Linked DNA regions of Homo sapiens. The protein of the gene in region 2 interacts with the protein of the main gene of each other region in a biochemical or structural test. Each region holds a gene or a part of one and is shown on either strand. Other genes may lie near its edges.

Region 1 (7,024 bases), on a different chromosome or scaffold from region 2:
GTTGAGAAAGATGGTGGAGAGGAAGTAGGAAGAAAAGGTCTGAAGGAATGCACTTCTTGCCCCCCATGCCCCTTGATGATTTCTTTGGTGTGGGGGGCGATAGCTGGTTTCCTTGCAGTCTCCTGTTTCAGCCCATTTTTGGATGTCTCCTGAGCGTAATTATACCACCACGATTTACAGCCTGGCAGGGAACCTATATAGTAGGAAAGTAGCAGTGTGGGGGTAGGGAGAGAAGAGGATGTGTAACTAATTGGCCGCTGCCTTCCACCACCTCGCTCGGTTCTTTTGGAGACACCGTCTCTGGTTGTTGTTTGGAGTCAGTGATATTTCTTTTGTGACGGGTTGGTAGGAGAGCTGACTCCCAAGTTATGCAGGGAGTGAGTGTTTTGCACCAATGCACTTAATAATCTGCTGGGTGATTATGTTCTGAAACTCTGACTCATTCATTGTTTCTCTTCTGATCCTTTGCTAAGGGTTGTGCAAACCTCCCCAGGAGCCTAGAAACTGATTTACATGACTTTTGGATCCTTTAGGAATGTGTCCCAGTAAAAAAACCTTGCAGTTAGCCCAGATCCTATGGAATAGTCTCGAATAGTGCGGCCATTTGTTTGCAAAGTCAGGTAGATTGGTGATCTGTGCTGCCCAGAGCCTGGCAACCTTTGAGGTTTCCACCTCCAACCAGCTGATTATTTAGATTGTCTGAGAGCTGGGGCTCTGGTGACCTTAAAGCGTGATTTGCCCTAAAGGAATATCGGTTTAAGTTCTCCCTGGTGGAGGAACAAACAGCTCAGATTACACGGGTTTCCTTGTTGGTGGGGGTTACTCGTCTCACCCTGTTGCACAGCCCTGGTGATCCTTTCATCTGTGAACCAGTGGCCCCTGCTGAAGGCTAGAGCTGCTTGTTTTGGAAAAGCGTATGCAGGCAAAAGGCCGCAGGCACCGCTCCTCAGCGCTCATTGGCCGCCCTGTTACTACCCGGAAAAGGAGGAGGGGAGGAGCTACCAAACAGCTGATGGAGTATGTGACAAGAGAGTGTGTTTATATACAAAAGAGGTGGGGGCTGGGGAGGCCCTCTGAGTGGTGTTACAGGAACAAGTGTGTTTTCGAGGGGTAAAAAGAGAAGAGGAAAACCTGACCTGTTAGAGTACAAGAAATGTTTAGAAAAATTAAGGTTAAATCAGAAAAGTAGATCGGATAATAATGGGGACCGGCATACACCATATGTACAATTTTGTAACTTACAATACCAAGAGTTTTCAATGATTCTTCTTTTCAGAGGGAGTTCAGTAATAGGATCCCCCCCTTATTTATTTTTACATTTTTTGTAGAGACCGAGGTCTGACTAGGTTACCAGGCTGGCCTCCCAACTCCTGGCCTCAAATCTTCCTCCTGCCTTGGCCTCCCAGAGTGCTGGAATTACAGGTGTGAGCCCAGTGCACCTGGCCCAGGGCATGCCACTTTAAATGCACTTAACTGACTCATTTGCAGGGATTCCAAAGTATGGCAGAAATGTCAGCTTCCCTTAAGAAAGCGTCAAGTGTGATAGAAAGGGACGGTGTCTTACATTAAAACGGCCTGAGTTAATTTTACAGAATCGTTGGTGTCTGCTTTAGGGTTTCAGAAGCTTTCTCTAACAAATTCAAAACCTCAGATGTGGCCAAGTGTGGTGGCTCACACCTGTAATCCCAGCATTTTGGGAGGCTGAGGCGGGAGGATCACCTAAGTGTAGGAGTTTGAGGGTCCAGTGAGCTAAGATCATGCCACTGCACTCATGCCTGGGCAACAGAGCAAGACTCTCTTAATTAAAAAAAAAAAAAAGCTGGCACAGTGGCTTATGCCTGTAATCCCAGCACTTTGGGAGGCCAAGGCGGGCAGATCACCTGAGGTCAGGAGTTCGGGACAAGCCTGGCCAACATGGCAAAACCCCGTATGTACTTGTACTAAAAATATAAAAAATTAGCCAGGCGTGATGGTGCGGGCTTGTAGTCCCAGCTACTTGGGAGGCTGAGTCACGAGAATAGCTTGAACCCATGAGGCGGAGGTTGTGGTGAGCCTAAATTACACCATTGCACTCCAGCCTGGACGACAGAGCAAGACTCTTATCTCAAAAAAAAAAAATCCTCATATGTTTGGGTACTTGCTTTGTGCCAGCATTGTGCTGGGAGTTTAGTAGTGAAAAATTCAGTATGGGTGGTCATGGTGCTTATGCAATTAGTTAAAACTTTTTTAGTCGGAAAGGACAGGCTGTGTTAGGTCATTGCTGTGTGTAGTGCCTTTTTGAGTAACTTGTATTTACTTAGAGTGGACTTTTCAAGGAATAGAAAGGTTAAAATGAATTTTGTGTGCTAGGATGTATATGGGGATCTGTACACCTGTTTAAAAAAATTTCAAAACTAAAATATTAAAATATGTAGCCATTTGTCTTTGACTTAACTTTGGTATTTTGCTGTTAATCAGTAGTTACTCTATCCCTAAGTTAGTAGTCTTTGTTACTCTTTAATTTGTGTTCAAAGGGTAGACAGTTCCCTAAATCTTTTAACTAGTTCTAGTGTCAATTGGGAACCTGTGGTTTGCCTCTTTATTTCCAGTGGACTCTGTTTTAGTGAGATGATGAGATGAAAGTTGGCACAGCTTTATGGTCTTCAAGCTAAAAGTTAAAGATTTGGCAACTCTCAGTGTTCTGAATTTGTCTTCCCTGCCTAGATTTTGGTGACAAATATAACATACTGGTACTTATTTTGGTTAGGCAGGAACCTACATGAGTAAGCATTCACAGCTTCAGAACATCTGATTCCTGCAGTGCAGTTCTAGTAAATTACACGCAAGCCTAAAAATTCAGCTTTTTGGGAAAAAATGTTTCGCAGATGTGACCCATAAACGTCCCTCCTGTATTTGTGTATGTATGTTAGAACAACCTAAGTTTGTTGGTTTTCTAGTGTTGCAATTTTCTTAGCCCCTTGACCTGCATTTTATAGATATATTTAAACATTGGTATTCTTTTCAGTCTTAACAGATTTGATGGTTCCAAGAATCATTGGATTTTTAGGCATGTAATCCAGACCTTACATTACGTTATAATGTTTGCAACGTAATAGCTTTTTACCTGTAGACCTACAGAGTGTACCTGTTAGTAAAATACTTAAAAGAACTTAGTTGGATTTCAAAAGTAAAAAGATAATTGAGAAAAACATAGGTTACAAGAAGGAAAACCAGTCACCTGTAATCCTAGTTCTTTAAACAGTAGTTCTCAAACTTTAGTTTGAGATTGCACCACTGCACTCCAGCCCGGGGGACAGAGCAAGATTCCATCTCAAAAAACAAAAAACAAATAATCACCTGGAGAGTTTGTTAAAACAGGTTACTGCATACCACTCCTGGAGTTTTCTAATTCATTGGGTCTAGGGTGGGGTCTAAGAAGTTCGCAGATGATGCTTCTGGTCCAGGACCACTGTTTAAGAACTGTTGGCCTTAAATGTTAACCTTATGGCTTTTTTCCTATATCTTTTATTCTCCCCAGGATGTATTGTTTTCAACCTGTTGATCATACTGTATGTGTCTGCCCTGTTTTTGCTTAATATTTTTGCAACTGTTTTTCCCAGTTAAAAATAATGACTAGGGGCCGGGCGCGGTGGCTCACGCCTGTAATCCCAACACTTTGGGAGGTTGAGGCAGACAAATCATGAGGTCAGGAGATTGAGACCATCCTGGCTAACATGGTAAAAACCCATCTCTACTAAAAATACAAAAAAAAAAAAATTAGCCGGGCGTGGTGGCGGGCGCCTGTAGTCCCAGCTACTCAGGAGGCTGAGGCAGGAGAATGGTGTGAACCCGGGAGGCGGAGCTTGCAGTGAGCAGAGATAGCGCCACTGTGCTCCAGCCTGGGCCACAGAGTGAGACTTCGTCTCAAAAAAAAAAAAATAATAATGACTAGGCTGGGCACAGTGGCTCATGCCTATACATCCAGCACTTTGGGAGGCTGAGGTGGGCAGATCACCTGAGGTCAGGAGTTTGAGACCTGCTTGACTAACGTGAAGAAACCCCATCTCTACTAAAAAATACAAAATTAGCTGGGCGTGGTGGCGCATGCCTGTAATCCCAGCTACTTGGGAGGTTGAGGCAGGAGAATCAATTCGCTTGAACCTGGGAGGTGGAGGTTGCGGTGAGCTGAGATTGCGCCATTGCACTCCAGCCTAGGCAACAAGAGCGAAACTCAGTCTCAAAAAAAAAAAAAGTAGCTCATGTAATATGCCATCCCATGGCTGTGCCATTGATTTAATTCTTTGCCATTTTTCTCTGATGAATAAGATTGAAATTAACATCTTTGTGCATAGGCTTTTCTTTGGGTTATTTCTGTTTTCCCGAAATGGGATTCTAGATCAAAGAAGGTAAACATTTGAATTAAAATATTTAATTAAAAATCTCAGAGCCCTACACTCAGCGGGCTCTTGTTTTGTTGTGTTGTGTTTTAGTTGGTATCGTTTTGGCACTGAAATAGCCTGGCATAGTGATTAAAGATGAATTCTAATTTCCTCATTGTTTAAACTTTGATGTTTTTTGTGATAATGGTGATCCTCAATTTAGGCATAATTTTGTATTCTCAGAGTGCATACTGCAAGTCGGTAGGTTAAATATATTTATGAGCAGATAGATCTAACAGGAACTGTAGAATTAGTTTTGGCATCTTGGATTCTTTTTTGTTATTGAGGTATAATTGACATACAGTTAACTGTACATATTTAAAGTGATACTTTTGATAAGTTTTAATTTTATGTATCACCCATGAAGCTTATCCTTATCAAGAGAGGAGACATATTTATCTTCCCCCAAAGTTTCTTGTGGCCCTTTGTAATCTTTCCCTCCCTCCCTTCCAACCATTGATCTCATTTCTGTCACTGTAGATTATTTTACATTTTCTAGAATTGTATATATAAGCGGAATCATTCAGTACATACTCTTTTTGTGTGGGTTCTTTCACTTATAATTCTGAGATTCACCCATGTTATTTAGTTCATTTTTTTTTTATTGCTGAGTAGTATTCTATTATGTGGATATACCACAATTTGTTTATGCATTCACCTCTTAATGCTTGGTGGCATTTGGGTTATTTCCAGTTTTGGGCTATTACCAGTAAAGTTGCTATGAACATTGTATGGATATACGCTTTTTTTTCTCTTGGCTAAGCTAGATCATGTGGTAGGGTTTGCGCATGCGCGTGCGTGCGTGCGTGTGTGTGTGTGTGTGTGTGTGTGTGTGTGTGTGTTTTGAGCGCATGCGCACGTGTGTGTTTTGAGACAGGATTTCACTCTGTTGCCCAGATGAGAGTTCATGGTGTGATCTCAGCTCACTGCAGTCGTGGCCACTTGCCTGGCTAATTTTATTTTTTTTGTAGAGATGAGGTCTCACTGTTGGCCAGGCTGGTCTCAAATTCCTGGGCTTAAGTGATCCTCTGGCCTTGGCCTCCCAAAGTGCTGGGATTACAGATGTAAGCCGCTGTGCCCAGCCATGTTTAACACGTAGTTTGAATTTAATGTTTACTGATGATGGTCCATATTTCACACCCAAATAAAATTGTGACAACGGTTGTTTCACTTGTGTGTTTTGTTTTGTTTTGTTTTGTTTTGAGACGGAGTCTTCGCTCTGTCGCCCAGGCTGAGTGTAGTGGCGCGATCTCGGCTCACTGCCAGCTCCGCCTCCTGGGTTCACGCCATTCTCCTGCCTCGGCCTCCTGAGTAGCTGGAACTACAGGCACCCGCCACCAAGCCTGGCTAATTTTTTGTATTTTTAGTAGCGACAGGGTTTCACCATGTTAGCGAGGATGGTCTTGATCTCCTGACCTCATGATCTGCCCACCGTGGCCTCCCAAAGTGCTGGGATTACAGGCATGAGCCACAGCGCCTGGCCTCACTTGTGTATTTTAAAGGAATCATGTTAAATTACATGCTCTTAAAGCACTGATTTATTTTTTATTATTAACCTTATTTTATAGTATATGAATTTTGTTAATTTTTTTATCAATAAAACAAATTTTACCACAATGATTGTGATACCTTTCACTTGAATAATGATTTAAACACTTTATCTTCCTTTTTTAAAGACAGAATCAGTCTCGCTCTGTCGCCCAGACTGGCTCTCTGCAACCTCTGCCTCCTGAGTTCAAGCGATTCTCCTGCCTCACCCTCCCGAGTAGCTGGGATTACAGGGGCCTGCCACCACACCCAGCTAATTTTTGTATTTTTAGTTAGAGACAGGGTTTTGCCATGTTGGCCAGGTTGGTCTTGAACTCTTGACCTCAGGTGATCCGCCTGCCTCTGCCTCTCAAGTACTGGGATTACAGGTGTGAGCCACGATGCCTGGCCAATCTGGTTTTTTGTTTGTTTTTGTGTTTGTGTTTTTAGACGGAGTCTGGCTGTGTTGCCCAGGCTAGAGTGCAGTGGTGCGATTTCAACTCACTGCAACCTCTGCCTCCCGGCGCTTGGCCTAAAGCATTGATTTCTAGCTGAATTTGGTTAAAGCTGATTTGGTAGCTACTCTTCTCTCCCCACCCCCATTTGAAATTAGTAAATTAAATTTTTATTGTGAAATATTTTTGTTAGCCTGAGCTACATGGCAAAAGCCTATTTCTACCAAAACAGATAAAAAATTAGCCAGGTATGGTGGCATGCACTTGTAATCCCAGCTACTCTGGGGGCTGAGGCAGAAGGATCACTTAAGCCCAGGAGGCAGAGGTTGTGGTGAGTTAAGATCATGCCACTGCAGTCCAGCCTGGGTGACAGGGCAAGGCCCTGTCTAAAAAAAATGTTTTGTGGCCCTTTGAAATTACACTTTAGGAATCTGGCCGGCCATAGTGGCTCATGCCTGTAATCCTGGCACTTTGGGAGGCTGAGGTGGGCAGATCACCTGAGGTCAAGAGTTCAAGACCAACCTGGCCAACATGGCGAAACCCCATCTCTACTAAAAATGCAAAAACTAGCTGGGTGTGGTGGTGCACACCTGTAATCCCAGCTACTCAGGAGGCTGAGGCAGG
Region 2 (7,689 bases):
CTCACTATGTTGCCCAGCACGATCTCAAACTCCTGGCCTCAAGTGATCCCCCCACCTCAGCCTCCCAAAGAGCTGCTCAGCCTACACCTACTCTTTCTGAAAGGTGTTTCAGAGAAAGATTTCTACTGAGTGCTTTTTAAAAAATCAGTTATTGGCCGGGCACAGTGGCTCATGCCTGTAACCCCAGCACTCTGGGAGGCCGAGGTGGGCGGATCACCTGAGGTCGGGCATTCGAGACCAGCCTGGCCAACACGGTGAAACCCTGTCTTTACTAAAAATACAAAAAATTAGCCGGGCATGGTTGGCACATGTCTGTAATCCCAGCTACTCGGGAGGCTGAGTCAGGAGAATTGCTTGAACCCAGGAGGTGGAGGTTGTGGTGAGCCGAGATCAAGCCATTGCACTCCAGCCTGGGCAACGAGCAAAACTGTCTCAAAACAAAAACAACAACAACAAAATTAAAATTAAAAATTATCATCTTTAATCCCTACAGCTCTGACTTTCCAATCACTTCTTATGTGATGTGCTTTTTGCCTTATAAAACATTATATGACAAATTCACCAGTGGCTGGTGGGAATTGGACAGAATTCTATTTATGTGCCTTAAGCATAGTCATTCCGATTTGCAGAAAATAGTCATGTCCCAGATTTATTACTTATGTGTAGCTGTAATTTGTGAGCTGAAAATATGCTTGAAAATCTGTGATTCCTGAACAGTGGGTATTAATAGAAATTTATTTCACTATTGGTGTTAACTTTCGACAACAGGAGGATAATCGAGGCAGATATTTAGAAATGAAATATATCATAAAATATTAAGTTATTTATATTTAAATATGACAAATAATCCTTTATGCATTGAAAATTTGGGAAGTCTAAAAAGAAAAAGAAAAGCAATCAAGTCCTATCACTGGAGATAATTACTGCTATGATGGTGATGTATTTTCTTCTCATCTTTTTTGTCTGCTCATACATGTGAATGTTTTCACAAGGTTGTTGTGATCACATTACGATACAGTATTGTATCTCCACTATCTTTCTTTCTATTTCATTCACCCTTCCTGGAGTTGAGGCAGGAGAATAGGGTCTTGAGGCAGGGAACCTAAGGCTGATTCATGCTGACTTCCTAGAACTAAATTGAAAGGAAAACCTCAACTTTCCATGCCTAAGTAACAAAAGGACCAGAGGCTACTCCCTTTGTAACCTCCACCACCCCACCGCCCCTAGCCTTTTCTGCGTGGCAGAAACATCTGCAACCAATCAAACGTTTGCATAGGAGTGTAACTTTTGTAACTTCACTTCGGCCTCTCATTGGTTGCAGCAAGCAAAAGCAACCAATCAGACTGATTGCGGGCCACTACTTTATTTGCATGGGATGAATACCAAGTGGCCAGTGGGAAACCTCTAGGCAGTATTTGGACCCCAGAAGATTCTGTAACCAGGGCCCTTGAGCCACTGCTCAGCCAGGTCCCACCCTGTGGAGCACTTTCATTTTCAATAAATCTCTGCTTTTGTTACTTCATTCTTTCTCTGCTTTGCTGTGCATTTTGTCCAATTCTTTGTTCAAAAAGCCAAGAACCTGGACAACTTGTAGTCAAACCTTCTACTGGTAACAGTGTCACTAAATATTTTTCAAAAGCAAGATTTTTAAATAGCTGTATAATGTTGTAATGTGGCAGTACAATTATTATTTAGTCTTTCTCCTGCTATTAGAGTCAGCATTCATTCAGCAATTTAAGTACTATTGGGTGTGCTAGCAGATAAAGGTTTATTGATTATTGAAGATAATCCTTTTCTCAGGCATCACAGGTTGTAGGGGTAGGGACTGAACATTGAACTTCATATGGTATGGCTGTCTTAGGGGTACAGGCAGGGAGCTGTCAGCTTATAACTGGTCATTTAAACCACGAGGAAGTGAAGATGGCATTGCTCAGGGAAACAGGTAGGAAGCTAAGAGAAAAAGACTGAAGGTGGCACCCTGAGGAACACTCAATTGCATTGAACTTGAGATGCACTCAAATCTCTAGATCCCCATTTCCAAACATACATCTCCACTCATTTTTGTATGGACTTACTCAAAAAATTCAAAAACAGCCATTCTTCCTCTTGCCACCACATCCCTCACCCCTGAGATGCCAAGAACATGGAGCTTAAAAATTAGAGTGGTGGTCAGAGACGCCCCTGGGAGGAGGGCAAGGCTGGAAGCAAAGCCCATTCTGTGTGGCTTGTTCATCTTCCTTTCCCTTACATCATTGTCAGGTAGTCTGAGTTGTAATTGGATCATTAAACTTGTTCTGGGATTCCTTCTAAACTGCATGTGTCTGGCACATTTGCCCCACCTGCACAACCAGGAGCCCACCTGTCTAAGCACTGACTCCCCCTAACTCATGCTCCCCCTGTGCTCTCTTCTCTGCTGGAACCATCCTGAGCTGGGTCCCCACTCTCCTTCCACTATAGTATGGTACTTTTTCATAGGGCAGCCATTGACCACTTTGGAAACTAGACGTTCTGCTCTTCAAGCCCTTTGCCCCCACAACTCTCAGGGCTTGTTCTAGGTGGAAGCAGGAAAAGATGGGCATGCTAGTCCAGGACCCTCTATAGAAGGAATATCGGAGGGAAGCACAGGGTAAATCCATGGAGGCCCAGCCATGGAGGAGGAAATGATAGTCATAGGAAATGCCAAATGTCAGAGTGAGATTCAAGACATATTTGTTATTAATCAATTATGCAATGGTGTGATTGCATAAATAATGTGATTTTAGTTGGTTGTTTATTTGGGATGGAAATGTAGTCAGAAATTATTAAGTTGGTTATTGTGTCCCAGTACGCAATCTTTGAGTCAAATGACATTTGATTAGAAAATGTTCTTTCTTGTCTTACATTAAAGCTCTTTCCAGGGGCCTCAACAGGGGATAAAATATTGTGTTTTCTCAGAAATCTAGCAAATCAGAAGGTGAATGTTCATGATTATGATCTCTAAAGGAAAAGAAATTCTCTAATACAAGGTTTTGTTAAGCACAATGTTCACATAAGACATTTGAGGGAGAACCCCTTAAAAATAAGAGTTTAGGGCCAGGCACGGTGGCTCATGCCTGTAATCCTAGCACTTTGGGAGGCTGACGCGAAAGGTCAGAAGTTTGAGACCAGCCTGGCCAACATGGTGAAACCTCATCTCTACTAAAAATACAAAACTTAGCCAGGCATGGTCACGGGTGCCTGTAATCCCAGCTACTCAGGAGGCTGAGGTGGGAGAACCGCCTGAACCCAGGAGGTGGAGGCTGCAGTGAGCCGAGATCGCGCCACTGCACTCCAGCCTGGTGACAGAGCAAGACTCTGTCTCAAAAAGAAAAAAAAAAAAAAGAAAGAAAAAGAAAAATGAGAGATTATAATACCACAATGGATTCTTCACACAGATTATGCTATCCCTTGTTTGAAGATTTTCCAACATATGGCAAATTCTCTTTGTTTTTGGTCTTAACTGAGATTGGAAAAACTGAACTTAGTGTCATTTGAGGGAATTATTATAATGCAGTGTTTCTCAAACTTGGCTGTACATTATAATCACCTGGGGAGCTTTTATAAATCCCAGCTGTCCAGACCACACCATGGGCCAATTAAACTTTTCGGGTGCGACCCAGGTGTTTACCATGTGCAAAGAAGTTTGAAAATGACTAAAATAGGTAACTCTGAAGTCAAACTGCCTGGCTTCAAATTCCAGGCCAGCCACTTCCTAGCCATGTGACCCTGGGCAAGATATTTGATTTCTATGAATTCTATCAGAAAAAAAGACAATAAAAATAACATATTTTTGTAGGATTGCTATGAGGTTTAAACAAGATAATCTATGTAAATTATTTATTAATTTGCTGCAAAAGTAATCACGGTTTTGCCATTAAAAGTGATGGCAAACACTGCGAATCCTTTTCACCAACCTAACACAATGGGGCAGGCATATGTGAATTCCATAGGCTGGGCACAGTGGCTCACACCAGCACTTTGGGAGGCCAAGGGGTGGGGAGGAATGTGAACAATTTTCACAAGTTCAAGACCAGCCTAGGCAACATAGTGAGACCTCCTCTCTACAAAAAAATTAAAAAATTAGCCTAGTGTGATGGTGCATGCCTGTAGTCCCAGCTACTGAAGTGGGAGGATTGCTTGAGCCTGGGAGATGGAGGCTGCAGTGAGCTGTGATCGTGCCCCTGCACTCCAGCCTGGGTGACAGAGTGAGACTTTGTCTTAAAAAACAAAAAAATGAAGTTCTATGGTAATTATTATTAACTAACAGCTTTCTTATTTCATATTAATTACTCTGCAAGACACTTCCAGCATGGTTGCCCCATCTGACACTCATTCACCTCGTTGATTTTTTTTTGTTGTTGTTGTTGTTCTATAACATTCATTCATGCACAAATTCATTTTACAAGTATGTATTCATCTAACATTGACTTAACTATGAGTATGACAGAAGACACAAAAGAAATGTACACATCTGCCTCACCTCCCTTGGAGTTTATCTTCTCTAGTGTGTTCGTGTTTTCCGGTTCAGATCATAAGCATCATGAGCTAAGGGACCATGTTTTATGCCCGGACAGCCGTAGCACCCGGCGCTGCGGATTGGAGACACTGCTAGGCACCCGGGCTGGAAGATTGGGTTCTAGTTCTTGTTTTGCCGCTTACAGGCTGGGTGACAGGGAGCAATCCTGTTGTCCTCAATAGGTGTGTTTCCTCATCTGAAAGTGTACACAATCCATCCATGACTGCTGTGACGATTACAGGTCTACACAACGCGCATGTGGATTTGTCTTGCAAACGTCCACCATCAGGCCCTCAGGAAACAGTGCCGCGCGTGCCCACCAAGGGGCAGCAGATCGCAGTGCAGAGGCCCGCGGCGCTCGACGTCAGGGCGCACGTCCCACCCCGTGACCATGACTGTGACCGTGACCGAGAGCGTCGCTGGGGCACGGCCAGGCGGCGCGGCGGGAGTGCACAGGACGCGCCATGGCGGCCGAAGCCTCGGAGAGCGGGCCAGCGCTGCATGAGCTCATGCGCGAGGCGGAGATCAGCCTGCTCGAGTGCAAGGTGTGCTTTGAGAAGTTTGGCCACCGGCAGCAGCGGCGCCCGCGCAACCTGTCCTGCGGCCACGTGGTCTGCCTGGCCTGCGTGGCCGCCCTGGCGCACCCGCGCACTCTGGCCCTCGAGTGCCCATTCTGCAGGCGAGCTTGCCGGGGCTGCGACACCAGCGACTGCCTGCCGGTGCTGCACCTCATAGAGCTCCTGGGCTCAGCGCTTCGCCAGTCCCCGGCCGCCCATCGCGCCGCCCCCAGCGCCCCCGGAGCCCTCACCTGCCACCACACCTTCGGCGGCTGGGGGACCCTGGTCAACCCCACCGGACTGGCGCTTTGTCCCAAGACGGGGCGTGTCGTGGTGGTGCACGACGGCAGGAGGCGTGTCAAGATTTTTGACTCAGGGGGAGGATGCGCGCATCAGTTTGGAGAGAAGGGGGACGCTGCCCAAGACATTAGGTACCCTGTGGATGTCACCATCACCAACGACTGCCATGTGGTTGTCACTGACGCCGGCGATCGCTCCATCAAAGTGTTTGATTTTTTTGGCCAGATCAAGCTTGTCATTGGAGGCCAATTCTCCTTACCTTGGGGTGTGGAGACCACCCCTCAGAATGGGATTGTGGTAACTGATGCGGAGGCAGGGTCCCTGCACCTCCTGGACGTCGACTTCGCGGAAGGGGTCCTTCGGAGAACTGAAAGGTTGCAAGCTCATCTGTGCAATCCCCGAGGGGTGGCAGTGTCTTGGCTCACCGGGGCCATTGCGGTCCTGGAGCACCCCCTGGCCCTGGGGACTGGGGTTTGCAGCACCAGGGTGAAAGTGTTTAGCTCAAGTATGCAGCTTGTCGGCCAAGTGGATACCTTTGGGCTGAGCCTCTACTTTCCCTCCAAAATAACTGCCTCCGCTGTGACCTTTGATCACCAGGGAAATGTGATTGTTGCAGATACATCTGGTCCAGCTATCCTTTGCTTAGGAAAACCTGAGGAGTTTCCAGTACCGAAGCCCATGGTCACTCATGGTCTTTCGCATCCTGTGGCTCTTACCTTCACCAAGGAGAATTCTCTTCTTGTGCTGGACACAGCATCTCATTCTATAAAAGTCTATAAAGTTGACTGGGGGTGATGGGCTGGGGTGGGTCCCTGGAATCAGAAGCACTAGTGCTGCCATTAATGAATTGTTTAACCCTGGATAAGTCACTTAAACTCATCTATCCAGGCAGGGATAATTAAAACCATCTGGCAGACTTACAAAGCTTGGGACAGTTATTGGAGATTAATCTACCATTTATTGAATGCATACTCTGTGCAAGGAAATTTGCAAATATTAGCTTATTTAATCTGTACTATCCAGTGAGGTAATTTCTTCCCCCCCAAGATAGAGTCAAGCTCTGTCACCCAGGCTGGAGTGCAGAAGCATGATCACAGCTCACTACAGTTTCAACGTCCCCCGCTCAGGTGGTCCTTCCACCTCAGCCTCCCAAGTAGCTGGGACCACAAGTGTGCATTACCACACTCAGCTAATTTTTGTATTTTGGCAGAGATGGGGTTTCACCATGTTGCCCAGGCTGGTCTCAAACTCCTGAGTTCAAGCAATCCACCTTCCTCGGCCTCCCAAAGTACTAGGAGTACAGGCATAGCCACTTGCTCAGCCATAATTTTTATTATTAATCTCATTGTACAAGTGAGAAAACTGAGACCCAGAGAGCTTAAGTGACTTCCTCGAGGTCATAGTTACTTACTGCCTTAGTCCCAATTTGAATTCAATTCTGATTCCAAATAAGTTGCGCTTAAATAAGACAACAGATGTGGGAAAAATATGTGAATGTGTAGTGTTGCTATGTGTACTGTCTTTACAAGTAGCTAATTATTTTAGCACAAAGATGTGCAAAGAAAGGAGACTTTATGGAGAGTTCAGGAGAAAAAGGATTTTGTGGTGGCCATCACTTTCATTCAATTTGCGACTGCTCTGATGGCACATTAGATGAAGTTACTGTTGATCCTGAGTTACGTGAATAAGAAAAACAATTGAACTGCTTATTAAAAAAGTAAACATGTCTTTTAACGCCTATATCTTCTCCACTATACAAACTCAGAAAATACCACTTGGTTGTTTGAGAAAGGCCTATATTTGTGTAAGTTCTAAACTATTGCAGAACACACTACATACTAGCGTCAAAGGGCTGATGACGCTCCTGTTACATGTTTATGGGGTTTTTTCGTTTGTTTGTTTGCTTTTAGACATGGTCTTGCTCTGTTGCCCAGGCTGGAGTGCAGTGGATTGATCACTGCTCACTGCAGCCTCGACTCCCTGGGCTCAAGCGATCCTCCTGCGTCAGCATCCTGAGTAGCTGGGACTACAGGTGTGTCACCATGCCCAGCTAATTTTTAAATTTTTCGTAGGGATGGGATCTTGTTTTTGTTGCCCAAACTGGTTTCAAGCTCCTGGGCTCAAGAGAGCCTCCTGCCTTGGCCTCCCAAAGCATTGGGACTATAGGTATGAGCCACTGTGCCTCGCCCACGTAAAGTAAAAGCGAGAGCCTAACTCCCATGCCAGTCCACAAAAACCCATTTTCTTGTCAATGCTCTCATCATATAGCACTAATAGTAAGATTTGGGGCACCCTAGA
Region 3 (6,700 bases), on a different chromosome or scaffold from region 2:
GGCCCAGCATGAGAAAATGCTCTGTGACACCTGGTGTATCGAGGTGAGACTCGGGGCTGCCAAGCTCAGGTGAGGGCTGGAGGTGCAGGCCCAACCCCTCCTTCCCTCTCCCCAGGCTGCAGCTCGGATCCGAGAGGGCATGGCCGCCCTGCAGTCTGACCCCTGGCAGCAAGAGCTCTACCGCAACTTCAAAAGCATCTCCAAGGCCTTGGTGGAGCGGGGTGGTGTGGTCACCAGCAACCCACTTGGCTTCTGAATACTCCCGGCCAGGGCCTGTCCCAGTTATGTGCCTTCCCTCAAGCCAAAGCCGAAGCCCCTTTCCTTAAGGCCCTGGTTTGTCCCGAAGGGGCCTAGTGTTCCCAGCACTGTGCCTGCTCTCAAGAGCACTTACTGCCTCGCAAATAATAAAAATTTCTAGCCAGTCATGCTTTGCTCCTGTGTGACGGTTCTTTCCCCCTGCTGCCTGCCTCCCTCCCAAAGAAAGGAGCCAGAGGCGTGGGGAGTTTGCCTCTATTGCTTTATTTGGTGTTTTATACAAGTGACTAAAATAAATAGAGTAACAAAGGCAGCTACATGGCCCAAATCTCCCAGCTTCCTCAGGCTGCTGTCTAGGATGCCTAACCCCGGGGTACCGCTGACCACCCCCAACCCTGCAAAGGGCAGGGCTGTGGGTAACTGGAGGAGGAGGTCACATTCTGGGGTTAGAAGGGGCCCAATGGATGGGAATTCTTCATATAAAAGAGGAAATGCCTATTAAAAAAGTCCCAAAAATGTAAGAAACTCTATTTTAACCCCCAAAAAGGCTTATAAAAAAACAAAGCTAAAAATAATCAAAGGTCCCTTGTCTACCCCTGAGGGAAGGGGGAGGAACCAGGCACTGCTGGTGAGAGTCACAGTGGCCACAATCTCCTGTATGGCAGCAGCTGGTAGGCTGAGCCCAGGCACTGTAAGAGCAAGCACATGACGGCCAGGACACCCAGTCACACACCAGGAGCGCCCGGCCCAGCCTGGCCCCACAGTGGGCTACATAACATCCACAAAGAACTCGCTGGGATTGCCCATGGCCATGTGGAAGCTTTGGCGGCTGGCTGTCAGTTCTGGGGGCACAGAGCCCAGGTCTCTGACTGGAGGGGCCCCCGGAGGCTGCACTGCTGGAGGGACTGGAGGTGGAGGTGGGGGCATCATGACCACCATCATGGGGTTGTAGGGGAGGGCCATGCCAGGGGGCGGTCCATAGGGATGGAGCCCTGGGTGGGCTCGGAGATTAGGGGCACCCCCAGTTGAGCCTCTGGATGGAGGAGGGCCCCCATCGCTAGTCCCACTTGCTTCCCCACCCCGCCGAAGGCTGCCCCCTCGGCTGGAGGGCTCAGACTCACTGCCACTGCCGGACTTGGACTCGGGGGCCCGCTCCTCGGGCCTCCCCGTGCGCCCTGCCCCCCCATCACTCCGTGTCGACCCACTGCTCCGGCTGCCTGTGGAGGGAGGGGAGGGGCAACTGAGTCCTCACCCAGGCTCCTCCCTGGCTCCCCTCTCATCCACCCTCAGATCCTGGCCGTACAGGTATGTGGGGATGACTTACCCTCACTATGCTGGCTGCTGGCACTGCCCCCACCATAGGTGTAAGATGAAAGCTCATGGTAGGGTGGAGGCTGCGGGCTGTAGGGGTGTGGGGCAGGGTATTGGTAGGAGAAAGTGGGCAGCAGGGGCCAGGGGGTGGCCCCAGGCAGAGGAGCCAGGGTATCCTGGTCTGAAGCCCCACTGGAGCCATCGTTGTCATTGAGAGACAGGTTGACTAGGTCTGGAAAGCAAGGGAAGAGAGGAAGAAATCACTGCTTCAAGAGGCTAGGGCCCCAAGACACCGAATGGAGAGGAACTGGGAACAGTTCTCCCAGACCCACCCACGATGGGGCTCAAAACAGGGGTTCACAAGGGTCTCTGACAAGAAACTCCCATCTACTTCTGCCATGAGGGCAGGGGCACAGCCACTAGCCCACGTCTTTGCGGGACTCAGGTAAGAGGTGCACCTTCCCCCGGTGGACACAGTCCTGCACCTGGCACATGGCTTGTCCAGCAGCACATGGGTGGACGTCAGCCCCCATCCTCGGCCAGTGCAGGACCTAGTGCGGGACACACACTGCTCGACCATCCATGGTGGCCCTGGCTGCGGTTTCTGGGCTAGGTCTAGGGTTGGAGAGGCAGAACAAGGTAGGCAAAGCCACACTCCCAGAGTTGGGGCAGGGGGACTTACAGCTCTCACAGCCACCACTGAGGTCTCCGAAGACGTAATAGCACTGCTCAGAGAAGGTGATCTTGTTGACGGTGTGTCGGATCAGGCCTGCTTTGAGCAGCCCGCTGGCATACTTGCGGGCCTCCCGCCGCTCAGGAAAGCCCTCCACGTGATGGTAGAGCCAGTCAACCACATCCGAGCCTGGGAGCACCCACAGTGGAAAAAGGCCTCAGGTTCTTCTTCCAACTCCTGCTCTCGCCTCTGCCTGTGCCATTCCTGGCTTTGGTCACCACCTCCTCCCCTTCTCCAGCCACCTGCCCAGGACCCAGCCATACCCAGAAAGGCATTAGGGATGGTGATCTTGAGCCACATGCGGTCCCGGACTTCCAGTCCAGACTCTGGAGCTGCCATGGCCTTGGTCACCGATGCCATGTCCGTATGGACGGAGAGACCCCGGCCTTCACAGCCTGGCAGAGGAGACAACGGGTAACCAGAGTCAGGGATCGCTCCCACAAGGGCAATGGATCAGACCACTGCGGGACAGCCTTCTGCTGGGAGGGTGGGATGAGGTGGGCTGGCGGCTCACCATCAGGCAAAGACGATCCAGATGTAATGGTGCTCATGGAGGAGGAACCTGGATAGGCTGGGAAGGTGCCAGTCAGAGCCGCGGAATGGGACACCCAGGCAGCAGGGTCAATTGGCTGGATGGGCTCATCTGGGACAAAGATGGCACCAAAATGACCCATTCTCAGTCCCCAAAAGCCAGCCCAGTCCCTCCCTGACTCAGCCTCCTGTTCCACCTCTGCCTGGACCCTCCTCCCACCCATTCCCCATGACCACAGGCCCGGCCCCAGCCTCCTGGGCAGCCCCCACCCCCAACTTCAGGCCCCTCCCTGAGTGTCACTCACTTCGGGGGAGAGTGAAATAGGCCTGAGGAGAGGGATCCCAGCACTTGGCCACAGTCAGCACAATGGGGCTATGGGGAAGAGAAGTCCAGTCAAGGGCGCAGGGGAAGAGGAGGCCTCAGGAGGGCGGGGGTCTGAAGCAAGGATGGATTAAGAGACACAAAGAGGGGGAGAAGCAAGCACATCGCGGCTGGGCTAGAGAAGGTGAGGGTGGAAGGCACCACAATGTGGATGACTCATCAACATGGAAAACTCTTAAAAACATACTGCCAAGTGAGACAAGAGAGTACACGCTGTACAGTTCCATTCACAGAAAGTCCAAAAACAGGTAAAACGAAACTGCAGTGTTCAAGGATACGTGCAAGGGTGGTAACTATCCAGTGAGGCAAAGCTTTTCTTTGTTATGGTGATGGCCAAAGAAGTCAGGAGAGTGACTACCCCTGGGGCAGTGAGGCATTTGGGAGCAGGAAGGGACATCTGAGGAGGAAGTTCTAGGGTATCAGCAATCTCCTATTTGATGATCTAGATGGCAGTGACATGGATATTTACTCTAGTATTATTTGCTATGTCATGCATTTGTTTCATGTACTTTGAACGTTATGTCTTAGCACTTTTTTTTTTTTTTGAGACGGAGTCTTGCTCTGTCGCCCAGGCTGGAGTGCAGTGGCGTGATCTCGTTTCACTGCAACCTCCACCCCCCAGGGTTCAAGTGATTCTCCTGTCTCAGCCACCTCACTAGCTGGGACTACAGGCATGTGCCACCATGCCCACTTAATTTTTCTATTTTTAGTAGAGACACGGTTTCACCACATTGGTCAGGCTGGTCTCGAACTCCTCACCTCAGGTGATCCACCCATCTGGGCCTCCCAAAGTGCTGGGTTTACAGGCTCGAGCCACCACGCCCGGCTGTCTTAGTACTTATTAAAATTCCAAAACAAAACATGAAAGAGAAAAAAAAAGAGGACTGAGGACCGGCAACCTGCTTGGCAACTCACCCAGGCTTGTGCACAATGTCCCTCAGCACCCGCACAGCGTCATCGTTGCTCATGTTCTCAAAGTTCATGTCATTCACCTGGAAGCGACGGCAAGTGGGTCAGAGACACGGTGGGAGAGGCTGAGGGCCCCCGTGCAGGGCAGCTCAGTGGCCCTACCCCAGCACACCTGCAAAAGCATGTCCCCTGGCTCAATGCGCCCGTCGGCCGCCACAGCCCCACCCTTCATGATGGAGCCAATGTAGATGCCTCCGTCTCCCCGCTCATTGCTCTGGCCAACAATGGAGATACCCAGGAAGTTGTACTTCTCTGTGGAGAGAGGCCATGTGAAAAGAGGAGCCCCTGCCACAGGACGCCCGGAACCCTAGAGACCAGGCCCTCCCCACGCCCTAGCCACAGGCTCTCCCCATACCCATGTTTAGCGTGACTGTGATGATATTGAGAGACATTGTGGAATCTGTGACGCTGCTGAAGGATGACGTCTGTGGTGGGAAAAGGAGCCAGAGTGCCCTTCAATAACCCAGGGTCAACCCTGGGGTGCTGCCGGTGTCCTGGCACCGCCCAAACCAAAGCCCATGCCCCACCTTCTCCCAGCACCAGCCTTCCTGTAGGAACCCCTCACCCTCTCCAGGCGGGGTGGCCTCTGCTTCCTTCGCCGCCGGTGGCGCTTAAGGAGGCGGGAGGCACTGCTCTGCTCCGTGGAGCTGCTGAACCTACCAGGAGGTTGGGAAGGAGAGCAAACGTAGGCCAAAGTGGTCATGGGGCCAAGAGAAAGAACAAGAGGATTGACTGGAAGACGAGACGGGGCTGGGTGCGCTGGGGAGAGCTGTGCGGAGCCACACCTGCTCATGGTGTCCTCCTCGTCCGAGTCCCCCAGGCTGGTACTCTCCAGCTCGCTGGTCATGAGGGTAGAGGAGCTCTCGTATCCGGCCAGGTGGCGCTCCAGCCTTGAGGGGCCACCAGTCCTGTGGCCCCCAGCTACATATGGACAGGAAGCTCAAGAACCAAGCTTCCCCCTGCTCACCCCACCAAGGCTGGGGTCTGGCCCAGCCCTTCCCGGCCCCCAGGCCTGCCCCTCACCGCCATGCTCACTGCTGTCTCTCCTGCGAGGCCGCTCCCGCCTCAGTGACACTACTGACTCGGTTTCTGTCTCAGGCTCCAGATTCTCATGGCTGCTGGACACATTAGGGCTGGACAGGCAGAGATGGTTTCCAACCCACATCAGGAGAACAGGGCTCCGGATCCTAGGCGTCCCCTACCAAAGGCCTGGGTTCCCTCCTCACCTCCCTCCCCTGCAGTCAAGAATCTGAAGGACTCACTGGAAGGATGGAGGCCTTGAGTCCCCAATGCCGCTGGTCCTCTCGGGTGGCAAAGGAGGTAAAGGTGGGGCTGGAGGCGCCAGTTCTGCCCGAGGCTCATGGACTGGAGGGGCCATCTCGGGTTGGGGATTATCTGAGGACACCAGCTAGAAGGGTGCAAATGATAAACAGTGGCTCACTTGGGAGTCAGGGTGTGACAGGTGGCAGTAAGTGAAAGAATGAGAAAGGGTCTCAGAGAGCTGGAGAAGAGCAAAAAAACCTAGCAAGTATTAGAGACTCCAGAAGGAGAAGGCTGAGGGCCTCTCGCCGGCTCTCCAAACAGACAGGAGGTAAAGAGCCAGGGCTGCTAACGCGCGGCCTGGGGAGGATACAGAAACAGACTGAGGCTTGAGGGAGCTTGGCAATGCTGAGGGGGCCTGGTCCTCGGTGTCAGAACCTCTTACCCAGGATACCACCCTTCCGTTGAAGCAGGGGAGGCGGGCGTTGTCATCTGAAATTTCTTCCTTCACCACCCTGCCAAGCGACAAGGTAGAGGTCAGTGAGCTGGACCAACCATCCCCACCCCGACCCCCATCAAACTTTCTCCCAATCTTCACCTGGCTCCAGGATGTTGACTTTCTCCTGCCCTGTTCAGGTCTTCTCTTACATTGAAAGAACTCACTCCGACACCTAAGAAATCTCCAAACTCAATCCCCTTTCCTTATTTCTCCTCTCCCTAACGCACCCTCAGGGGCACAGTGCTGCTCCAAAGACTTCCTTGAGTCTGACTCAAACCTCTTAGTCCAGTTTCAAAAGCAATCCCGCACGCTGATGCGGCTGCCTGAGATACCTATCTAATGAGACTGGCTGGTGGCCTCCTCTCAACCCCACCCCTGTTCCTTACAAACCTTCCAAAAAGGTCAGGCACGGTGGCTCACACCTGTAATCCCAGCACTTTGGGAGGCTGAGGCGGGCGGATCACCTGAGGTCAGGAGTTCAAGACCAGCCTGGCCAGCATGGTGAAACCCCATCTCTACTAAAATACAAAAATTAGCCGGGCATGATGGTGGGTGTCTATAATCCCAGCTACTCAGGAGGCTGAGATGGGAGAGTCGCTTGAACCCGGGAGACAGTGGTTGCAGTAAGTCGAGATCGCGCCACTGCATTCCAGCCTGGGCGGCTCAAAAAAAAAAAAAAAAAAAACCTTCCAAAAAAGGCTTTGGTCCTCATCAAAGCCTCTACTCTTATACTTTCCTTTAGTTTTCTCTAATTCATTTC
Region 4 (7,024 bases), about 130 Mb from region 2:
GCTGCTTTAACAAAGTGCCACAGACAGTGTGGCTTAAACAATAGAAGCTTATTATTTCACAGTTCTGGAGGCTGAAAGTCTGAGATCAAGGTGTCCACAGGGTTGACTCCTTCTGAGGGCTGAGTGGCAGCATCTGTTTGAAGCCATCTTCTCCCTGTATCTTCACATTGTCTTCCCTCTGTGTCTGTGTTGAAACCCCCCTCTTATAAGGACACTAGTCATTTTGGGTCAGTGCTTACTCTGATGACCTCAGTTTAACTTGATCACCTCTGTAGAGACCCTGTCTCCAAATACAGTCACATTCTGAGTTCCTAAGCGTTAGGACTTTAACATAGGAGTTTGGGGAGGGGGACACAAGTCAACATAATAGGCCTTTATAATTAATGATATGGCATTTCATAATATGGAAAATAAAAGAGCATTTTGTCAAAAATTATTTGCTTTCATATGGCTCTAAACTACACAGTACATCCCCAAAATGTAAGAAATGAACTGGACTTACAGAAATTAACTTGTGCTCTATATACATAGTGTATGACTCATAAAAAACTATAATAAAACTATGGTTTAATAAAGAAGCTAATTAGTATCACTTTCTAAATTGGAATTTGTCTTTGAGTAGTTATTCAGCCTTAACTGGAGCCTGTTATAAGCACCCTTTTGGGGTAGAAGTTTGGCATTAATAACTTAACACTGGATGCTAGAGGACAAATTTTCAGCAGAAGGAGCTGTATGTGCTACTGAAGCCTGGAGCTTACTAGAGGTTGATTTTAATGTTTCTCTTGCTTTCCCACTAATGAGATCTAAATTATAGGACGGATAGACTTTTTTTCCCTTTACTCATTATTTAAGAGCCAGTTCATATTTTAATTTCTCATTGAATTGCCCGTAAAATATTAAATAAGATAAATGCAACACAATTATCCAACTTAGGAAATGTGCTTTTTTTTCTTTCCTTTTAAATTCTTAGCTGGGTTTTGTTAAGAGCTTCAGCAAAATCGATTTTCTCTATTTTTTGAAATGGTGCTCCGTTTGTATGGCTAGGAAGAGGGCACTGCAGTTCAACAGTTGGAGTCTTTAGGTGTGATAAATAAACAAAAGCTGGTTCCATTATTCCTGTGGTTTTCCTCATCTTTTTTTCTTTCGATGGACACAAAATAATGCTGATTTTCACCTTTAGGAAAAGGTTATTCTGCCATTTCTCATGGCCATTAGTGATGGAAGCTGTAATGTGAAGTCCATTGAATGGACTTGTCTCCCAATACCTTTTGTCTTTTAGACACCCACTTCTCCTGTCGATACCCTGTGGTGATTTTTACAAAGTGCTTGGATGGTCATTCTGTCTGATGTGCCAGTGAGGCTTCCTTTGACTGACAGTTGAGCGTCTGATTCATACGCTTCAGTAGCTGTTGGACCACAGGCCCAAGCCTGATGGGTGAAACAAATACTGTAGTATTATGATATGGTTACCTGGAACCACAAATCCAGATTCACTCAAATGAGTTAAATTGATTTTGATTTGCAGTCTAAGAAAATAAGGTTCCAGAATGTCAGCCATCTATTCTTTCCCCTGGTCTTTAGCTAAGTTGTAATACTACTAGGGTAGATTTTATTTATGTATAATCTGATTATAGCACAGCAGAAATAGTCAAAACCCTAGTTAATAATTTTTTTTCTACAAAAGTACATTCTTATGCATAGGACTATATTAAATATTTGTCGTGGCTCAGAAGTAGATTTAGTTTTGACCAGTTAGAAGGTACTGTGCATTAAACACATGGATATACATTGTCTCTCATAACAAATAATTTCTCACTCTAGGAATTATTTGTAGTCTTGACACTATTTTTTGGACAAAGATAAGAACTCACCTTAATTTGTAGATATGTCAGACTGAGGAAGCCCATTTTTTCTCATCTCCATATTTTTTACTGATATTTAAAAAAGATATTGGGCTCTATATATTAAGCTTCTCTTACATGCATATGGAGACCTTGGACTGGTGGTCCAAGGTGGTGGTTCTGGAATCTGCTGCTTACACAATCTAGTTAATTTCTAAACAGACCAAAAATCAAAGAACCTACAGAATTATAGGCCTAACTCCCAAGCCTCTCTATAAGTATCTCTGAGATGGATCCTGGTAATAGATGTTTTTATAAAAGTACCTCATGTGACTTGAATGCATAGCCAGGTTTGAAAACTTCTGTCCTGAGCTGACTGAGTGTCAATACCCTGTTGGTTTAGTTGGCGTCTCTTTACCTCCAAATAGTCTATAGTGGAGCTGCCAGAAATCTCTTGAGTTCATGATTGATAGTGGATTATTTATGAAACAAGTCTCTGGAAGTTTTATGATATAACTTATAATTGTAAGCTATAACTTCTATTCCATTATATCTTTGAATTTTGGTATGCCTTGCATTAAAACTACTCTTACAGAGAATTTTTATTCTCTAATCTCATATGTCAACAGGCTTCTTTTCACCCTAAAAATCCTGATGTTAAAAATTGTTTAAAATAACATTGATACCAAAAGAAGACTAAAACTGAGATGAGATGAGTAAAAATGAATTTTTAATGGTATCAAATTATCCTCTTTTGAATGGATGAGTAAAAGTTTAATTACTTTTTAGAAAGCATATCATGTATCTTGTTACCCCCAGTGAATCCTATAACTAGAAATATATCACCTACTTTTGGAAAACAAACTGAAATAGGATGCACATGAAGGGCACTTTAGCTGTCTGATTAAGCAGAATCCATTGATGTGTTTGTTTCCAACAGGCCCAGTCTTTGTCTCTGCATCCCATACAATGATTCAGTACAAATCACTTTATAACCTTACTTTTCTATCTTTCAATATAGTGTTTGTTTTCAGAGTTTATCTTTAGTTATCTGTCTCTAGGTTTAGAACATCTTGTTTTAAAGTAGCAGAAATTAGTTCATACTCATTTCTTAAATATGGACTCTGACTTCCACCATGTCTGGATGTATATTTTAAGGGCTTATTTCCATCAGAAATGTTATGTGTGAGATATATGTGTTAAGCTACTGGCTTTGGGCCTGTTTATCTTTGACTTGTTCTGAGTTTCCCTATCACCTTAAAAACATTTGAAGGCCAGGGCTGAAGGATATGATAGAATAACACCTCTTTTAGCAACAACATGTGACTCTATAGACTGACTCTGATTTGGGATATGCTGACTCTGATTTCTTATATTGCAGGCTCAAATGTCCTAATTTACCCTTTGTGTATCTCTATGAACTATTCTTGAGCTTTTATGCAATCCTGTGTGAAAAATCAGCCAGCCATTTTATTTTGGCATTTACCGACTAGCGAAATACTAACTAGTACCCACTCAAAGAGTGCAATATTCAAGAAAATGCTGAGTGGTATTTGGATTTTAGCTTGCCTGTCATGAAATTCTCTTTAATATTTTACCAGTCCTCTTTAAAATTTTGCCAGTTGAAAAAAACAAACAAACAAATAAAAATTACTGTCTTATAATAGTTTCTATTTCTTGGTTATGTAACGGAAGTGTCCACTTCCCTCTTTTCCAGCTTAGGAGCTTTAGTGTGCTCAGTTGAACCCCAAAGTATACATACGTGAGCCCAGCACTATCACCTCACTAGGCATCCAGCAGGTCCCTGGGTAAGGGATCTTTGAAAGATCTGGAAAGAGGGATGGGACATCTAGTTAGAGGCAGGTCTCACTCAACAGCCAGAGGGAAGGGGCAATCAGCAAGTGGGTGTGACATTTCCCCCGAATACTCAGCTATCCAGGTCCTGATGAAGCTCGGCTCTTGGGCACCCTGCAAGTGTCCTTGCTCAAGGTCTTTCTCTCAGTACACTGGGTCCAGTGGAATATCTAAGAATTATCTGGATCCAGGGATAAGATGAAGGCCTTGGATTTCATGCCTCTCTTTCCATCACCATTAAGTCTTTTGCCATTTCTAACTTTTCTTTTATCATTTTTTTCCCATAATAATCCTCAATAAGGATTTCTGCAAGGAAATTCCTAATAACCCTTTAGACAAGAACACAAGTAGAAAAAAAAAAAAAGTTGTTCTTCTCCTGCAGGGGAAGCAGGGCTCAGGCTTTAGACAGATAGTGCCAGATCTTATGAGATAATTTTCACTGATTATGGGTCATGACCACATTAGAGGATTAGTTAATTGGCTTCTCCTGTTAACATCAACAATGACAACCACCACCAAAAGGAAAAAAGCAAAAAACAAAAAAAGCTAGCTTTCATACAAAAAAATAGGGTATCTTCTACTCTGTAGCATTCAAATGAAGAATATAGGAAACAATGAAGAATTAACTGAATAATCTTTACAATGCAATGCAAAGTAAATTACAAAAATAAGTAAATCACTATAGCTACACATGAAATCCGCTTGCACTTACTGTGCATCCACGGTTTCAGTCCAATTCAGGTACATTAATTGTATTTATTCCTTACAAGATTTTTATGAGTTATTTTTAGACCCATTCTAAAGATGAGTACACCAACAGGTTAGAGTTGATAAATAACTTGGCCTAACATCATACAATTGTTACTAAATGTTATACGAAATCTTTTTTTTTTTTAATTTTTTTTTTTTTTTCAGACAGGTTCTTGCCCCATCGCCCAGGCTGGAGTGCAGTGGTGTGATCTTGGCTCATTGCAACCTCTGTCTCCTGGGTTCAAGCAATTCTTAGGCCTCAGCCTTTCAAGGTAGCTGGGATTACAGGTGTGTGCCACCACGCCCAGCTAATTTTTGTAATTTTACTAGAGACGAGGTTTCTGCCATGTTGGCTGGGCTGGTCTGGAACTTCTGGCCTCAAGCAATCCCCGCCTCAGCCATCCAAAGTGCCAGACTACAGGCGTGAGCCACTGCGCCAGCTTCTTTTTTGGTTTTTACATTTTTCCTTTTGGCTGTTGTTGTCAACATTGTTAACATGAGAAGCCAATTGCCCAGTTCCCTAATGAAGATCCACCACTGTCTTTCTAAAACTTCAGTTCTGCTTACCCTACAGGAGAGAATAAACTTTTTTTTTTTTTAAGAGATGGAGTCTCACTCTGTCACTCAGGCTGAAGTGCAGTGGTGCAGTCTCGGCTCACTGCAACCTCCGCCTCCCGGGTTCAAGCAATTCTTCTGCCTCAGCCTCCCCGGTAGCTGGGATTACAGGTGTCCACCACCACGCCTGGCTAATTTTTGTATTTTTAGTAGAATTGGCCAGGCTTGTCTAGAACTCCTGACTTCAGGTGACCCGCCTGCCTTGGCCTCCCAAAGTCCTGGGATTACAGGTGTGAACCACTGCATCCGGCCAGATAAGCGTGTTTTATGTTTTTTCTCCTTGGGTTCTTGTCTAAAGGGTTATTAAAATTTTTCTGAGTTTTTAACTTTTTCATTTCATTATTTTTTTCTATAATAAACCTCAATGATAATTTCCAAAAGGAAACTATATTGCTATTTCTCCTTCTTACCTTGCAGCATTAGATGAAACCTATAGAACACTGCTAGGTACTAATGGAATTAATGTTGATTCTGATCTTATTAAAAGAAGTCTGTTGTTTTTTAGCTTCTGTTCTTTAGCATATGTTAAAAGTCTCATACTATTTGAAATATTTGCATAGACTTTTAAACCGGAATGCCTGCTGAAATTTGTTTTTCAGAATTTATTTATATAATTACAGGAATTTTCACCTCTAATTTGTTAGCATTTGAAGTCTATTGATGGATTTTTATCATGTGGAACCATATATGCATTCATGGAATAAGTACAACTTGGTAGACTTATTTTAATATATTGCTTGATTTGGTTTGCAAATGTCCATTTCCTGGCGTTCTAGTTAATTGAAATACTTGCTTTCCCCAAAGCAGCAACACCAGTACTTTTTCTTTCAATAATAACATTGGTGTTCATATTCTAAAATATCTAGCTTTTCCTGTGCCAGACTTAAAGGTTAGTTATATTTTAATACTACATGTTTTATGCAGCTCCTTAAACCTCAAATCAGAACAACACTAGTGATAGTTGTCTCCATATGTTCTCATTAGAATTCTACCAAATATCTGGCTGGGTAGCTGCCCTCGTCAGGTGGAACATGTAACCATCAAACTGAAGCATGAATTGGGGATTACAGCTGTAATGAATTTCCAGACTGAATGGGATATTGTACAGAATTCCTCAGGCTGTAACCGCTACCCAGAGCCCATGACTCCAGACACTATGATTAAACTATATAGGGAAGAAGGCTTGGCCTACATCTGGATGCCAACACCAGATATGAGCACCGAAGGTAAGGATCAGAACTGTTCTGCCTCCTTGCTGTATTTCAGAGAAACCCTTGCTGTCTGTCTGTCTATCTATAATTTAATATCTTAAAAATGAATGGTAGAAATGGAATAAATATAAGATTTTAGATTTAATATATATAATACATATGTTTTGACACTGTGGCTAAGATTCTGTTTAATGTGGCTTCTTTGTTTATTCATTCAACACATATTTATTGTGTATGTACTGGGTATGCGGCATTATGCTAGTAGCTAGGAACACAGCAGTAAAGAAAGACAGGCACAACTTCTGCCCCCACGGAGCGCATTGTCCTATAGGGATGGCAAATGTTAATCAAATGACTAAAAATAGAAGTTTAAAACTATGATGAATTTTTTGTTAGAAAATATATAGATATTGCTATGAGATTATGTACAGGTAATCAGGCCAAGAAGTGGGGTCAAAGAGGGTTTTCTTGGAAAGTAGTGTTTGGGCTAAGATCTGAGGGTGGGCTGGAGGAAGAGTGAGTGGAGGGAGTGACCCAGGCAGAAGCAGCAGCTTAGAAGAATCCTTGTGGCAGGAGAGAGCACAGAGTGTTGCAAAAACTGAAAGACCAATGTGGCTTGGATCAGAGAACGAGGAAAGATGATCCTGCAGGATTTGAGCGACAAAAAGGACTTTAGACGCTATCCTATAGCAGGAAGAAGCAGTTGTACAGTAAGACGAGTTCGACACTAATTACAGCACAGAGGGGAATGGG

Evidence for each region.
Region 1: the proteins of NHLRC1 (region 2) and UBE2H form a complex in vitro, tested with the Homo sapiens proteins (one study listed by BioGRID).
Region 3: of the proteins of NHLRC1 (region 2) and DVL2, one has a biochemical effect on the other in vitro, tested with the Homo sapiens proteins (one study listed by BioGRID).
Region 4: the proteins of NHLRC1 (region 2) and EPM2A form a complex in vitro, tested with the Homo sapiens proteins (3 studies listed by BioGRID, with this or other methods).

The regions. Positions count from the first base shown.
Region 1 is NC_000007.14:129,942,952-129,949,975, reverse strand, and holds part of UBE2H (ubiquitin-conjugating enzyme E2 H), read left to right. Parts: intron 1-7,024. UniProt on the Homo sapiens protein: Accepts ubiquitin from the E1 complex and catalyzes its covalent attachment to other proteins. E2 ubiquitin conjugating enzyme that transfers ubiquitin to MAEA, a core component of the CTLH E3 ubiquitin-protein ligase complex.
Region 2 is NC_000006.12:18,119,916-18,127,604, reverse strand, and holds NHLRC1 (E3 ubiquitin-protein ligase NHLRC1), read left to right. Parts: upstream 1-4,927; 5' UTR 4,928-4,998; coding exon 4,999-6,186; 3' UTR 6,187-7,165; downstream 7,166-7,689. UniProt on the Homo sapiens protein: E3 ubiquitin-protein ligase. Together with the phosphatase EPM2A/laforin, appears to be involved in the clearance of toxic polyglucosan and protein aggregates via multiple pathways.
Region 3 is NC_000017.11:7,224,842-7,231,541, forward strand, and holds the end of DVL2 (segment polarity protein dishevelled homolog DVL-2), read right to left. Parts: intron 6,354-6,700; exon of another isoform or gene 6,040-6,353; intron 5,957-6,039; coding exon 5,887-5,956; intron 5,590-5,886; coding exon 5,444-5,589; intron 5,315-5,443; coding exon 5,205-5,314; intron 5,103-5,204; coding exon 4,967-5,102; intron 4,838-4,966; coding exon 4,747-4,837; exon of another isoform or gene 4,709-4,746; intron 4,607-4,708; coding exon 4,537-4,606; intron 4,434-4,536; coding exon 4,294-4,433; intron 4,205-4,293; coding exon 4,128-4,204; intron 3,204-4,127; coding exon 3,136-3,203; intron 2,943-3,135; coding exon 2,814-2,942; intron 2,695-2,813; coding exon 2,563-2,694; intron 2,429-2,562; coding exon 2,249-2,428; intron 2,118-2,248; coding exon of another isoform or gene 2,089-2,117; exon of another isoform or gene 2,046-2,088; intron 1,799-2,045; coding exon 1,580-1,798; intron 1,473-1,579; coding exon 1,024-1,472; 3' UTR 501-1,023; downstream 1-500. Other genes in the region: ACADVL (very long-chain specific acyl-CoA dehydrogenase, mitochondrial), read left to right, coding at 1-43, 116-256.
Region 4 is NC_000006.12:145,634,507-145,641,530, reverse strand, and holds part of EPM2A (laforin), read left to right. Parts: intron 1-6,044; coding exon 6,045-6,286; coding exon of another isoform or gene 6,287-6,372; exon of another isoform or gene 6,373-6,451; intron 6,452-7,024. UniProt on the Homo sapiens protein: Plays an important role in preventing glycogen hyperphosphorylation and the formation of insoluble aggregates, via its activity as glycogen phosphatase, and by promoting the ubiquitination of proteins involved in glycogen metabolism via its interaction with the E3 ubiquitin ligase NHLRC1/malin.